3 separate regions of the Homo sapiens genome follow, and regions 2 and 3 are each linked to region 1. Evidence: fine-mapped expression QTL. A gene starts in region 1. Each other region holds a variant in brackets. All regions are shown on one strand. Distances are between the middles of the regions. Region 1 holds the start of CERS4 (ceramide synthase 4). Region 2 has its middle 24 kb from the start of CERS4. Region 3 has its middle 29 kb from the start of CERS4.

Region 1 (4,207 bases):
GGCCAGGCTGGTCTCAAACTCCTGACCTCAGGTGATCCACCCGCCTCAGCCTCCCAAAGTGCTGGGATTACAGGTGTGAGCCACCGCACCCAGCCTCTAACAGATTTTTTTAAAAAAAGAAAAGAGAAGGTCGGGCATGCTGGCTCACGCCTGTAATCCCAGCACTTTGGGAAGCCAAGGCTGGTGGATCACGAGGTCAGGAGTTTGAGATCAGTCTGGCCAACATTGTGAAACCCCCGTCTCTCCAAAAAAAAAAATATATATATATATAAATTAGCCGGGTGTTGTGGGCGCCTGTAATCCTAGCTACTCGGGAGGCTGAGGCAGGAGAATCGAATGAAACCAGGATGCAGAAGTTGCAGTGAGCCGAGATCATGCCATTGCAGTCCAGCCCGGGCCACAATGCAAGACTCCGTCTCAAAAAAAAAAAAAGAAAAAGAAAAAAGAAAAGAGAAACAGTGTAGCAGAGGGAAGGCCAAGTGCAAACGCCAGGAGTCTGAACTTGGAGGGACAGGTTCTTCCACACTTGCAACAGAGGTCTCCTGCCTCCCTGACCGCCCCGCCCCCCGCGCCCCTGTCTGTGTGAGGAAATCAAATCTCAGCTTGCCTAGGGCCCTGTGGCAGGGAGGCCCCAACTTCACCCCATGGGTCTTGGGTCTGCTGAGCTGAGTCAGAGAAAGGTTTATTATCCCCATTTTACAGAGGCTTATTGTCCAAAGGCGAAGCCACTTGCCCAGAGTACATGCGGTGGGCCAGCGACTATGAAAACCCCTGGGGCTGTCCTCTGTTCAGGGATCGCCCAGGCTCCCTGCCCCTGCGCGCTGCTGAGACTGGGTCATTTTCGGTTCTACCAGGCAAGCGGGGGACCCAGCCCCCACTGCTGCTGCCCTCAGCCAAAACCAGGGCTGCGCCACCACCCACCCGGCCTATCTCCCATCTTATCTCCCCAGCTCTGTCGCCTGACCCCTGCACCCCACCAAATCGCAGCCTTTGCCCGGTGCCCTCACCGCCTCGGTTGGCCCCCGCGCGCGCCTCGGGCGAACCCCTGGACTGGCCCTCCAACAGGGCCCCAGACTCGGGGTACCCAGGGTGGCCGCTGAGGCCTGGAGAAATCTGGGCCTCCCCTGTGCACCATCCAACTGCGCGCCCCAGAGGCTCAGGGCGCCCCGGGAGTGTGGGGGTGTGGACAGATGAGCAGAGCCAGAGCATCTCGGGCAGAAGAGGGGACCTGGGAGGGGGCCGGGGAGACAGACAGCGAACAGGGGTGAAGCCGGGGCCGGACGGAGCGCGCAGCGGACAATACTGGGTTCAAAGGGGAGAGATAAGGCGCAGACTAGAAACGCTAGGCTGGACCCGGGCCAGGCGCGCCGCGGGGCAGAGATGGGCGGAGCGGGAACGGGGGCGGGGGCGAGAATGGGGGGGCGGGGACGGGGGCGGGGATGGGGTGCGGGTGCGGGGTCGGGGGCCAGGGAGAGGCCTAGTTGCGTCGAGGGGGGCAAGCGCCTGGAGGACCCGGCGCCCGCTCCAGGCCCTGCCCCTCCAAGTCCCCCGCCCCGCGCCAGGCCCCGCCTCTCCAGGGCCCCAGCCCCGCGCCAGGCCCCACCGTTCCGGGGCGCGTGCCCCGCCCAGGCCCCGCCCCCACGGCCCCGCCCCGGGCTCCCCCCACTCAAGCCTTTTTTCCCCTGCTGGGGGCCGAGGCCCGGCCAGGAGCAGAGTCCGGCTGCCTGGGGCGGGCGGCGCGTGTCTGCAGCTGCTCCGGGTAGCCCGCTAGGCGCGCCGTCCCCAGCCCCGCCGCCGGCCCTCGGTGCGCCCGGCCGCCTGCACCCCCAGGTAAGCGAGCACCCCGCGCCGCGAACACCGCCCCGAACGCCACCCTCACGGCGGTCCCCGGCCCCGCCTCCGCGGCCATGGCGGCCCCAGCCCGGCCCCCACTCGCAGCTGGGCTCCAGCCCCCATCACCCCGCCGGGGACTGTCCCCCTCGGGGCTTCCCATCATGGCCGTCTCCCCGAGCTATCCGCGCTCCCCCACGAGGGCCGGGGCGCAACGGGTGCCCGAGGACGCGGCTGTGAAACGGGCTGGAGCGAGTAGGGGCGATCCTGGCCTCGTGACGCGGGGGAATCCGGATGTGTGAGCCGGGGGAGCGCCCCGTTTCCCCGACGTGCCAGGGCTGGGGACGCAGCTGGGGCCCTGGCCTCGGAGTCCGCAGCCCGGCCGCGTAGACGGCTTCTGAGAACCGCTTAAACACGTCATTCCAAGCCCGAGCTAACCCATCAGGCGGCCGGGGTGAGGTGGAGGTGCCCAGGCGGGGATAATGTCATTTGGCCTGGTTGGACCAGCCAGCGAGGGCTTTTTAGGCCCAGGGCCTAGCCGGGAGTGTGTGCGGAGCAGAAAAGAGGCCAGCCTGGCTGAAACGCGGAGAGGGAGGGTCTGAGGTGGAGAGAGGTTGGCCGGGGCCTGGGAAGCGGCGAGGAGAGTGTGGAACCCGTTCTCGGGGCGGTGGGGACCAGGGAGGCTTGGAACAGCAGGTGCATGGCGTGATCGGATTGTGTCTTAAGAACATCCCGTAGCCGCTGTGGGTAGGAGAGATGGGGATACTTGGAAGGGGGCTTCTGGCTTGACCTGGCTGGAAGGTGTGATAGGAAGTGGGTGAACTGAAAATTCGCTTTGGCAGAGTAACATCGTCTAATTCTGTCTGTTTGCAAGTGGAGCGTGGGGGACCGATGTTTCTCCTGGGTAGTTAGGAGTATATAGAAGAGGCTTTCATTGCTGGGTTGGGAGACTTGAGGAGAAGCTGCTCTGGGGGACACAGGAAGGTGGGCAGGGGGAGAGGCTGTTGTGGTTTGCAAAACCTACCAGATGGGGGAATGCTCCCATCGACTCCAGTCTGAGCTCAGGCAAGGTCTCAGGCATCTGAGCGCAGAGGCCAGGGTGACCCCACTGGGGCGACCTGGGTCTGTTATATGGGGATAGGGTTCCTGGACTGTGGAATTGTCTTTGAAGCCCTCGGCCTCCCCCAGCCTCAAATGGGTCTGCCTTCCAGGAGCAGCTGCTGTGAATAAACACAGAAGTGGAGCTGGGGGACTGATTAGAAGCCTCATTCAGTGCACCTGGGCCCCAGCAGGCCCAGCCAGGCGTGGAGGAAGAGGCATTGAGGACTTTCCTTACCTGTTTTTCCAGCTCACCCACTGCCAGCAGAGGTACTTTGAGCCTGGGGTGTGGGGGGTGGGGGGCGGCCTTGGTCGTTGAACTGGCTGTAGGGCCCCCAGGGAAAGGTTTCTGAGCTTCAGTTTACCCATCTGTAAAATGGGTCAGTAGTATCTGAGCCTGGGAGTGTTCATGGATCGATGAAAGCCGAGGCTAGGCAGATCTCGGTGGCAGCCACACCCCTAAGGAACCGGAGAGGGTTCTAACGCCCGGTGGGAGTTCAGGGGGATGTATGGGCTTCCATTTCTCCTCTGAGAAATTCACAACAGTGTCCACCTCCTGACCCAGGGCTGTCTGCAGGTTGAATAAAGCGGTTGACCCAGTGCGTGGCACAGAATGTCTTGGCTCAGGAGCCACTGGGATGCCTGTAGTTGGCAGCAGAAGTGGGCCCAGGTTCCCTCCTCCCACCCGTGGGATGGCACAGAAAGGCAGGTGCCTTGGGAGCTCGCTGCCCTGTCCCCTTCTCTGAGCACCACAAGCTTCTCCCTTTCCGACTGGCTGGGCTTGAGCCTGACCACCCCCCAGCCCTGTCCTGCCACTTTGAGTTGAGGGCCTCCGGGCTACTGACTTCACCACTTCCTGCTTCAGTTTCTCCACCTGTAAAATGGGATAATAGCAGTCATGACCTATAGGTAAAGAGCTGAACACAGTGCCTGGCTGGTTGTGAATACGTGCTAAACAGGCTATTAAAATATCACGAGAATATCACAGAGCTGGAGGCTATTAAAATATCACGGAGGGGCTGGGCGTGGTGGCTCACGCCTGTAATCCCAGCACTTTGGGAAGCTGAGGCAGGCAGATCACCTAAGGTCAGGAGTTCGAGAGCAGCCTGGCCAACATGGTGAAACCCCATCTCTACTAGAAATACAAAAATTAGCCGGGCGTGGTGGCATGTACCTGTAATCTCAGCTGCATGGGAGACTGAGGCAGGAGAATCTCTTGAACCTGGGAGGCAGAATTTGCAGTGAGCCGAGATCGCGCCACTGCACTCCAGCCTGGGCA
Region 2 (4,207 bases), 24 kb before region 1:
AGAAAGAAAGAACCCAGTCTCACAAGGCTATCCAGTGTGTGACTGATTCCATTTATACAACAGTCCCGGAAAGGCTAAATTATGGCGACAGAGAGCCGATCAGTGGTTGTCAAGGAGAAGGAAGGAAGGATGTGACTCCTAACGGGCAGTGTAAGGGAATTTTACGGGGTGATGAAGTTGTTCTTTTTCTTTCTTTCTTTCTTTCTTTTTTTTTATTTGAGACAGAGTCTCGCTCTGTCACCCAGGCTGGAGTGCAGTGGATCTCGGCTCACTGCAACCTCCATCCCCTGGGTTCAAGCAATTCTCCTGCCTCAGCCCCCCGAGGACCTGGAACCACAGGTGTGCGCCACCATGCCTGGCTAATTTTTGTATTTTTAATAGAGACGGGGTTTCACCACATTGGCCAGGCTGGTCTCAAACTCCTGACCTCAGGTGATCCACCTGCATCAGCCTCGCAAAGTTCTGGGATTACAGGCATGAGCCACCCCATCCAGCATTTTTTTTTTCTTTTTTTTTTTCTTTTTCTTTTTCTTTTTCTTTTCTTTTTTTTTTTTTCTTTTTTTTTTTTTTTTTTTTTTTTTGAGACAGTCTTGCTCTGTCGCCCAGGCTGGAGTGCAGTAGTGTGATCTCAGCTCACTGCAACCTCTGCCTCCCAGATTCAAGTGATTCTTATGCCTCAGCCTCCCAAGTAGCTGGTATTACAGGCATGCGCCACCATACCTAGGTCATTTTTGTATTTTTGATAGAGATGGGGTTTCCCCACGTTGGCCGGGCTGCTCTTGAAATCCTGACCTTATGTGATCCGCTGGACTCGGCCTCTCAAAGTGCTGGCGTTACAGGCATGAGCCACAGCGCCCAGCCAGATTTTAATTTTTTTTTTTATAGATAGGGTCTCACTACATTGCCCAGGCTGGACTCCAACTCCTAGGTTCAAGCAATGCCGCCTCGGCCTCCCAAAGTGCTGGGATTACAGGTATGAGGTGCTGCATCCAGCCTAAAAAATTGATTTAATGCAAAAAAAAAAAAGAAAATCCTGGTGCCTGACCCCTGGCTGTCCTCAGCTGGCCCATAAGACCCTGATGACTTTTGAGCTCTGAATCAAGGGTTGGCATATCTAGACCTGCTGCAAGCTACAGATACTCAGAACCATGCACGAGGTTGCAAATCCTACATATGATTTCCAGAATCCACATCCCATCTGCACTCTTTCTGGTAGAGCACACCTTGTTCCTGGGGCTCCAGGACAAATGGGTGCATCAAAGCTAACTTCCGGCCCTGGGCAGTGGCTCACGCCTGTAATCCCAGCACTTTGGGAGGACGAGGCAAGAGGATCACCTGAGGTCAGGAGTTCAAGACCAGCCTGGCCAACAAGGTGAAACCCCATCTCTACTAAAAATACAAAAATTAGCTGGATACGGTGGCCCATGCCTGTAATTCCAGCTACTCAGGAGGCTGAGGCAAAAGAATCGCTTGAACCTGGGAGGCGGAGGTTGCAGTAAGCTGAGCTCATGCCACTGCACTCTAGCCTTGGAGACAAAGTGAGATTCTGGCAAAAGAAAAGAAAAGAAAAAAAGCTACCTTCCACCAGCCACAATGGCTCACGCCTGTAATCCCAACATTTTGGGAGCCCAGGAGTTTGAGACCAGCCTGCAGCCTGGGCAACATAGCAGGAAACTCTCTCTAAAAAGGAAGAAAAGAAAAATTCGCCAGGCATGGTGGCGCACACCTGTAGTCCCAGCTACTTGGAAGGCTGAGGTGGGAAGCTGGCTTGAGCCTGGGAAATTGAGGCTGCAGTGAGCTATGATCATGCCACTACACTCCAGCCTGGGCAACAGAGTGGGACCTTGTCTCAAAAGAAAAATAAAAAGTCTACCTTCTACGTGGTCTCTCTGGCTACCTCAGTCATACTGATCCCTTGGCTATACTGATCATTCAGTCACATCCCACTCTGACCCCTGGACTCCCCTGGCCACTGACCTATAGTGACCTGCTCTCTTTGGTCCCTGCAGGGAGACACATTTGAAACCTACAAGTACCCAGGGGAAAAAAAAAAAAAAAGGCCATTACTTCCTTAATCTGTATCTGTTTTTAAGTGGAATTGTATCCATAAGCAACCCAGAGTGCTATTATGTTTCAAATTTATATAAACAG[T/C]ATCACACTAAACTAACATTGCACAACTTGAATTTCTTTTTGAAACAGCACCACATTAAGATACATTTATATTGACATAGAGTAGAGCTGGAGAGAGTGAGAGTGAGAGCAAGGCAAGAGAGAGAAAGAGAGACACACAGACAGGGAGAGTTACTTATTCCTTTTCACTCCTGTTTAATATTCCATTACCTTACCATTACATTTCGTTCTCCTTTCATTTCTCTACTCCCTCATTGATGGACGTTCTGATAGTTTCTTTTTTTCTTTTCTTTTTTTTTTTTTTTTTTTTTTTTGAGGCAGAGTTTTGTTCTTGCTGCCCAGGCTGGAGTGCAATGGCGCGATCTTGGCTCACTGCAACCTCCACCACCTGGGTTCAAGTGATTCTCCTGCCTTGGCCTCCCAAGTTGCTGGTATTACAGGCATGCGCCACCACGCCTGGCTAATTTTGTATTTTTAGTAGAGATAGGGTTTCTCCATGTTGGTCAGGCTGGTCTCCAACTCCCGGCTTCAGGTGATCTGCCCGCCTCGGCCTCCCAAAGTGCTAGGGATTACAGGTGTGAGCCACTGCGCCCAGCCTTTTTTGTTTTTGTTTTTGTTTTTGTTTTTGTTTTGTTAGAGATGGGGTTTTATCCCGTCACTTAGGCTGGAGTGCAGTGGTGTAAACATGGCTGACTGCAGCCTCGACTTCCTGGGCTCAGGTGATCTTCCCACCTCAGGCTCTTGAGTAGCTGGGACCACAGGTATGCACCACCATGGCCAGCTAATTTTTAGTTTTTTTAGAGATGGAGTCTTGCTATGTTGTCCAGGCTGGTATTGAACTCCTGGACTCAAGCATTCCTCCTGCCTCAGCCTCCCAAAGTGCTGGGATGACAGGTGTGAACCACCGAGCCCAACCTAGTAGTTAAGTTTTGAGGAGTCAAAAGTTATATGTGAGGGGCTCGGCACAGTGGCCTGTCATCCCAGCACTTTGGGAGGTGGAGGCTGGCAGATCACTTGAGGTCAGGAGTTCAAGAACAGCCTGGCCAACATGGCAAAACCCTGTCTCTACTAAAAATACAAAAATTAGCCAGGTGTGGTGGCACGCACCTGTGGTCCAGCTATTCTGGAGGCTGAGGCATGAGAATCCCTTGAACCCAGGAGGCAGAGGTTGTAGTGAGCCAGGATTGTGCCATTGCACTCCAGCCTGGATGACAGAGTGAGACTGTCTCAAAAAAAGAAAAAAGAAAAAAAGTTATATGTGGGTCCAGGTGGGGTGACTCATGACTGTCATCCCAGCACTTTGGGAGGCCAAGGTGGGAGGATCACTTGAGTCCAGGAGTTCAACACCAGCCTGGAAAACATAGCAAGACTCCTGTCTCTACAAAAAATTAGCTGGACATGGTGGCAGGTGCCTGTAGTCCCATCAATTCGAGAGGCTGAGGCAAGAAGATCACTTGAGCCCAGGAGGTCAAGGCTGCAGTGAGCTATGATTGCACCACTGCACTCCAGCCTGGGTGACAGAGAGAGAGAGACAGAGAGAGAGCAACGGAAGGAAGGAAGGAAGGAAGGAAAGAAGGAAGGAAAGCGATAAATGAAAAGGAGGCCAGGCACAGTGGCTCATGCCTGTAATCCCAGCACTTTGGGAGGCCAAGGAAGGTTGATCCTCTGAGGTCAGGACTTTGTGACCAGCCTGGCCAACATGGTGAAACCCCGTCTCTACTAAAAACACAAAAACTAGCTGTGCATGGTGGTGGGCGCCTGTAATCTCAGCTACTTGGGAGGTTGAGGCAGGAGCATCACTTGAACCTAGGAGCCGGAGGTTGCAGTGTGCTGAGATTGTGCCACTGCACTCCAGCCTGGGCAACAAGAGTGAAACTCTGTCAAATAAAAGAAAAAAGAGAAGGAAAGAAAGAAAGGAAGGAAGGAAGGAAGACAGAGAAAGGAAGGAAGAGGAAGAGAGAAAGGGAGGGTAGGGAGGGAAGGAAGGAAAGAAAGAAAATGAAAAGGACAAAAACTCCAAAGGACAAATGAGTCTTTCACAAAAGGTGATCTCCAAATGGCTGATAAATGAAAGAGG
Region 3 (4,207 bases), 29 kb before region 1:
AGCCTGATGGGAGAATTGCTTGAGCCCAGATTGAGGCCACATTGAGCTGAGATGGCACTACCATACTCTAGCCTGGGTGACAGAGCGAGACCCTGTCTCAATTAAAAAAAGAAAAGAAAAGAAACAGGCCAGGCGCGGTGTCTCACGCCTGGAATCCCAGAACTTTAGGAGGCCGAGGCGGGTGGATCATTTGAGGTCAGGAGTTTGAGACCAGCCTGGCCAACATGGTGAAACCCTGTCTGTACTAAAAATACAAAAATTAGCCAGATATGGTGGCAGGCGCCTGTAATCCCAGCTACACAGGTTGCTGAGGCAGGAGAATCGCTTGAACCCAGGAGGCAGACAGAGGTTGCAGTGAGCCGAGATTGCGCCATTGCACTCCAGCCTAGGTGACAGAGTGAGACTCCATCTCAAAAAACAAACAAACAAAGAAAACACAAAACTTTTATGGAATTCCAGAATCCTTTCTTCCTTCACTACTTCCTCTACTTTTGCTCTATTTCAAATTATTTATTTTTGACCTCATAATTTTTTGTGTGTGGATGGGTAGGCAGAATGAATTAACAGTACAAATCTTACCTCAAAGACTAGCTATAAAATAAGAAAAAGCGCCAAGCCAGAGTTTGAACTTCCAGGTTATAATACTGATTCTGTCATCAAACAGCTTTGTGACACCAAAGGAGTTTACTAAGTTCTTTGGATTTATTTATTATTATGTTAGATGGAGTGTCACTCTATTGCCCAGGCTGGAGTGCAGTGGCACAATCTCGGCTCACTGCAACATCTGCCTCCTGGGTTCAAGCGATTCTCCTGCCTCAGCCTCCCGAGTAGCTGCGATTACAGGCATGTGCCACCTTGCCCAGCTAATTTTTGTCTTTTTAGTAGAGACGGGGTTTCACCATGTTGGCCAGGCTGGTCTCAAACTCCTGGTCTCTAGTGATTTGCCTGCCTTGGCCTCTCAGAGTACTGAGATTACAGACGTGAGCCACTGTGCCCAGCTGGAAATGGATTTTAAATCTCTGAGATGTGAAAGCATTTTCTAAGCTTAAGAGCAGAGGGCAAAATGGTCAAGCAATGTACTGAGTTGTCTCTCTTTAAAACTTAAAGAGGAATTCTTAGCCAGGTGCTGTGGCTCATGCCTGTAATCCCAGCACTTTGGGAGGCCAAGGTGAGAGAATCACTTGAGCCCAGGAGTTTGAGACCAACTTGGGCAATGTAGTGAGACCACATCTCTGCAAAAAATAAAAATTAGCTGGGTATGGTCGCACATGCCTGTAATCCCACCTACTTGGGAAGCTGAGGTGGGAGGATCACTTGAACCCAGGAGGCTGAGGCTTCTGTGAGCTATGATAGTTCCACTGCACCCCAGCCTGGGCAACACAGTAAGACTCTATCTCTAAAAAAGAAAAGAGAATGAGACATCTTTTGTCTATTTTAATCTAACCTTTTTTTTTTTTTCCTGAAGACTCTTACCCCAGCTTGCAGCTTTTTTTTTTTTTTTTTTTTTTTTGACAGAGTTTTGCTTTGTCGTCCAGGCTGGAGTGCAGTGGCGTAATTTCGGCTCACTGCAACCTCTGCCTCCCAGGTTCAAGTGATTCTCCTGTCTCAGCCTCCCTAGTAGCCAGGATTACAGACACACACCACCATGCCCAGCTCATTTTTGTATTTTTAGTAGAGATGGGGTTTTGCCATGTTGGCCAGGCTGGTCTCAAACTCCTGGCCTCAGGTGATCCACCCTCCTCAGCCTCCCAAAGTGCTGGGATTACAGGCATGAGCGACTGTGCCCGGCCAGCTTGCTGCTTTTAGCATAAATTTCAGGCTTCTGGTGAGCTCTTGGCAACATGTACCAAGAATCATAACGTGTTTGCCTTTTTCCAGCCAGTATTTCCACTGCTGGGAATCCATGAGAAAGAAATATGAGAAATAGGCAAATATTTACATATAACAATGCTTCTGTTATTGTTATTTTAATATTCAGTTAGTGCAAAGCCTGAGGTATCCGGTACGCTGTGTACAATCACGTGATAAGATCCAATATGCAGTTATGAAAAATGTTTGTAGATTTTCTTTAACAATATGTAAAATATTTTCATACT[A/G]TTTTTACAGAAAAAAGCAGGATATTGGGAGGCCAAAGCAGGCGGATCACTTGAGGCAAGGTGTCCAAGGCCAGCCTGGCCAACATGGTGAAACCCCATATCTACTAAAAATACAAAAAATTAGCAGAGTGTGGTGGCACAAGCCTGTAATCCCAGCTATTTGGGAGGCTGAGGCAGGAGAATTGCTTGAACCTGGGAGGCAGAGGTTGCAGTGAGCCGAGATGGCACCATTGCACTCCAGCCTGGGTGACAGAGTGAGACTCCATCTCAAAAAAAAAAAAAAAAGAAAGAAAAAGAAAAATGCAGGATATAGGATAAAACATTTTTTTCTAGATGTTGCCGTAATTAAAAATTTTGTTGCCTATATGGCCAGGAGTGGTGGCTCACGCCTGTAATCCCAGCACTTTGCGAGCCGAGGTGGGTGGATCACTTGAGGCCAGGAGTTCGAGATCAGCCTGGGCAACATGGTGAAACCCCATCTCTACTAAAAATACAAAAATTAGCCGGGCGTGGTGGTGCATGCCTGTAATGCCAGCTACTCGGGAGGGTGAGGCATGAGAAGTGCTTGAGTCCGGGAAGTGGAGGTTGCAATAAGCTGAGATTACACCGCTGTGCTCCACCCTGGGTGACAAAGCAAGACTGACTCAAAAAAAAAAAAAAAAAAAAAAGATGTTTCCTATATAGCAACAGGAAATCTCACTCTTTGCTGAGAGAAATGCCAAACAGTACAGCCACTCTAGAAGACAGTGTGACAGCTTCTTACAAAACTAAACATACTCTTACCATATAACCAATTAATTTCACTCCTAGATATTTACCCAAACGAGTTGAAAGCTCATGTCTACAAGAAAACCCGCACATGGGCCAGGTGCAGTGGCTCATACCCGTAATCCCAACACTTTGGGAGACCGAGGCGGGCAGATCACGAGGTCAGGAGTTCAAGACCAGCCTGGCCAATATGGTGAAACCCTGTCTCTACTAAAAATACAAAAATTAGCTGCGCGTGGTGGCATGTGCCTGTAGTCCCAGCTACTCAGGAGGCTGAGGCAGGAGAATCACTTGAACCCGTGAGGCAGAGGTTGCAGTGAGCCGAGATCACACCACTGCACTCCAGCCTGGGCGACACAGGGAGACTCCGACTCAAAAAAAAAAAAACAAACTGGCCGGGTGCGGTGGCTCATGCCTGTAATCCCAGCACTTTGGGAGGCCGAGGCGGGAGGATCACGAAGTCAGGAGATCGAGACCATCCTGGCTAACACGGTGAAACCCTGTCTCTACTAAATATACAAAAAATTAGCCGGGCATGGTGGCAGGTGCCTGTAGTACCAGCTACTCGGGAGGCTGAGGCAGGAGAATGGCGTGAACCCAGGAGGCAGAGCTTGCAGTGAGCCGAGATGGCGCCACTGCACTCCAGCCTGGGCGAGAGAGTGAGACTCTGTCTCAAAACCAAAAAAACAAAACAAAACAAAACCTGCACACGGATGTTTACAGCAGTATTATTCATAATTGCATAAAACTTGGAAGCAACCAAGATGCCCTTCGGGAGTTGAATGAATAAATAAACAGTGGTACTTTCAGACAATGGGAACTCATTAATTAAAATAAATGAGCTCTTGCTGGGCACAGTGGCACAAGCCTGTGGTCCCAGATACTCAGGAGGCTGAAGTGGAAGGATTGCTTGAGCCTAGGAGTTCCAGGTCAGACTGGGGGACAGAGAAAGACCATGTCTCTAAATAAATTAATTTAAATTACAATATATTTTTTCTTTTCTTTTCTTCTAACACAGAATCTCACTCTTGTCACCCAGGCTGGAGTGCAGTAGTGCTATCTTAGCTCAGTGCAGCCTCCGCTTCCCAGGTTCAAGCAATTCTGCCTCAGCCTCCTGAGTAGCTGGGACTACAAGTGCGTGCCACCACGCCCGGCTAATTTTTGAATTTTTAGTAGAAACAGGGTTCCAACAAGTTTGCCAGGCTGGTCTCGAACTCCTGACCTCAAGTGATCTGCCCACCTTGGCCTCCCAAAGTGCTGGAATTACAGGTGTAAGCCACTGTGACCAGCCTAAAAAAATTTTTTAATTATCCAGGCATGATGGTGCACCTGTAATCCCAGCT

The links. PIP is the estimated chance that this variant, and not a neighbour inherited with it, causes the effect. A credible set is the group of variants that fine-mapping cannot tell apart.
Region 2: its variant is the best candidate, but not a certain one, in a credible set for the expression of CERS4 in nasal epithelium (TOPMed, PIP 0.50).
Region 3: its variant is the best candidate, but not a certain one, in a credible set for the expression of CERS4 in lung (GTEx, PIP 0.82).

Annotation. Positions count from the first base shown.
Region 1 is chr19:8,207,665-8,211,871 of GRCh38, forward strand. CERS4 (ceramide synthase 4) reads left to right here and starts at 1,706. Exons shown (of 12, transcript NM_024552.3): 1 at 1,706-1,830; 2 at 3,042-3,198. RefSeq lists a silencer at 1,387-2,306.
Region 2 is chr19:8,183,575-8,187,781 of GRCh38, forward strand. No RefSeq gene overlaps it. Among named protein-coding and RNA genes, the nearest start is that of CERS4, 24 kb to the right of the region's middle. The variant T/C (reference allele first, on the strand shown) is at 2,152.
Region 3 is chr19:8,178,331-8,182,537 of GRCh38, forward strand. No RefSeq gene overlaps it. Among named protein-coding and RNA genes, the nearest start is that of CERS4, 29 kb to the right of the region's middle. The variant A/G (reference allele first, on the strand shown) is at 2,097.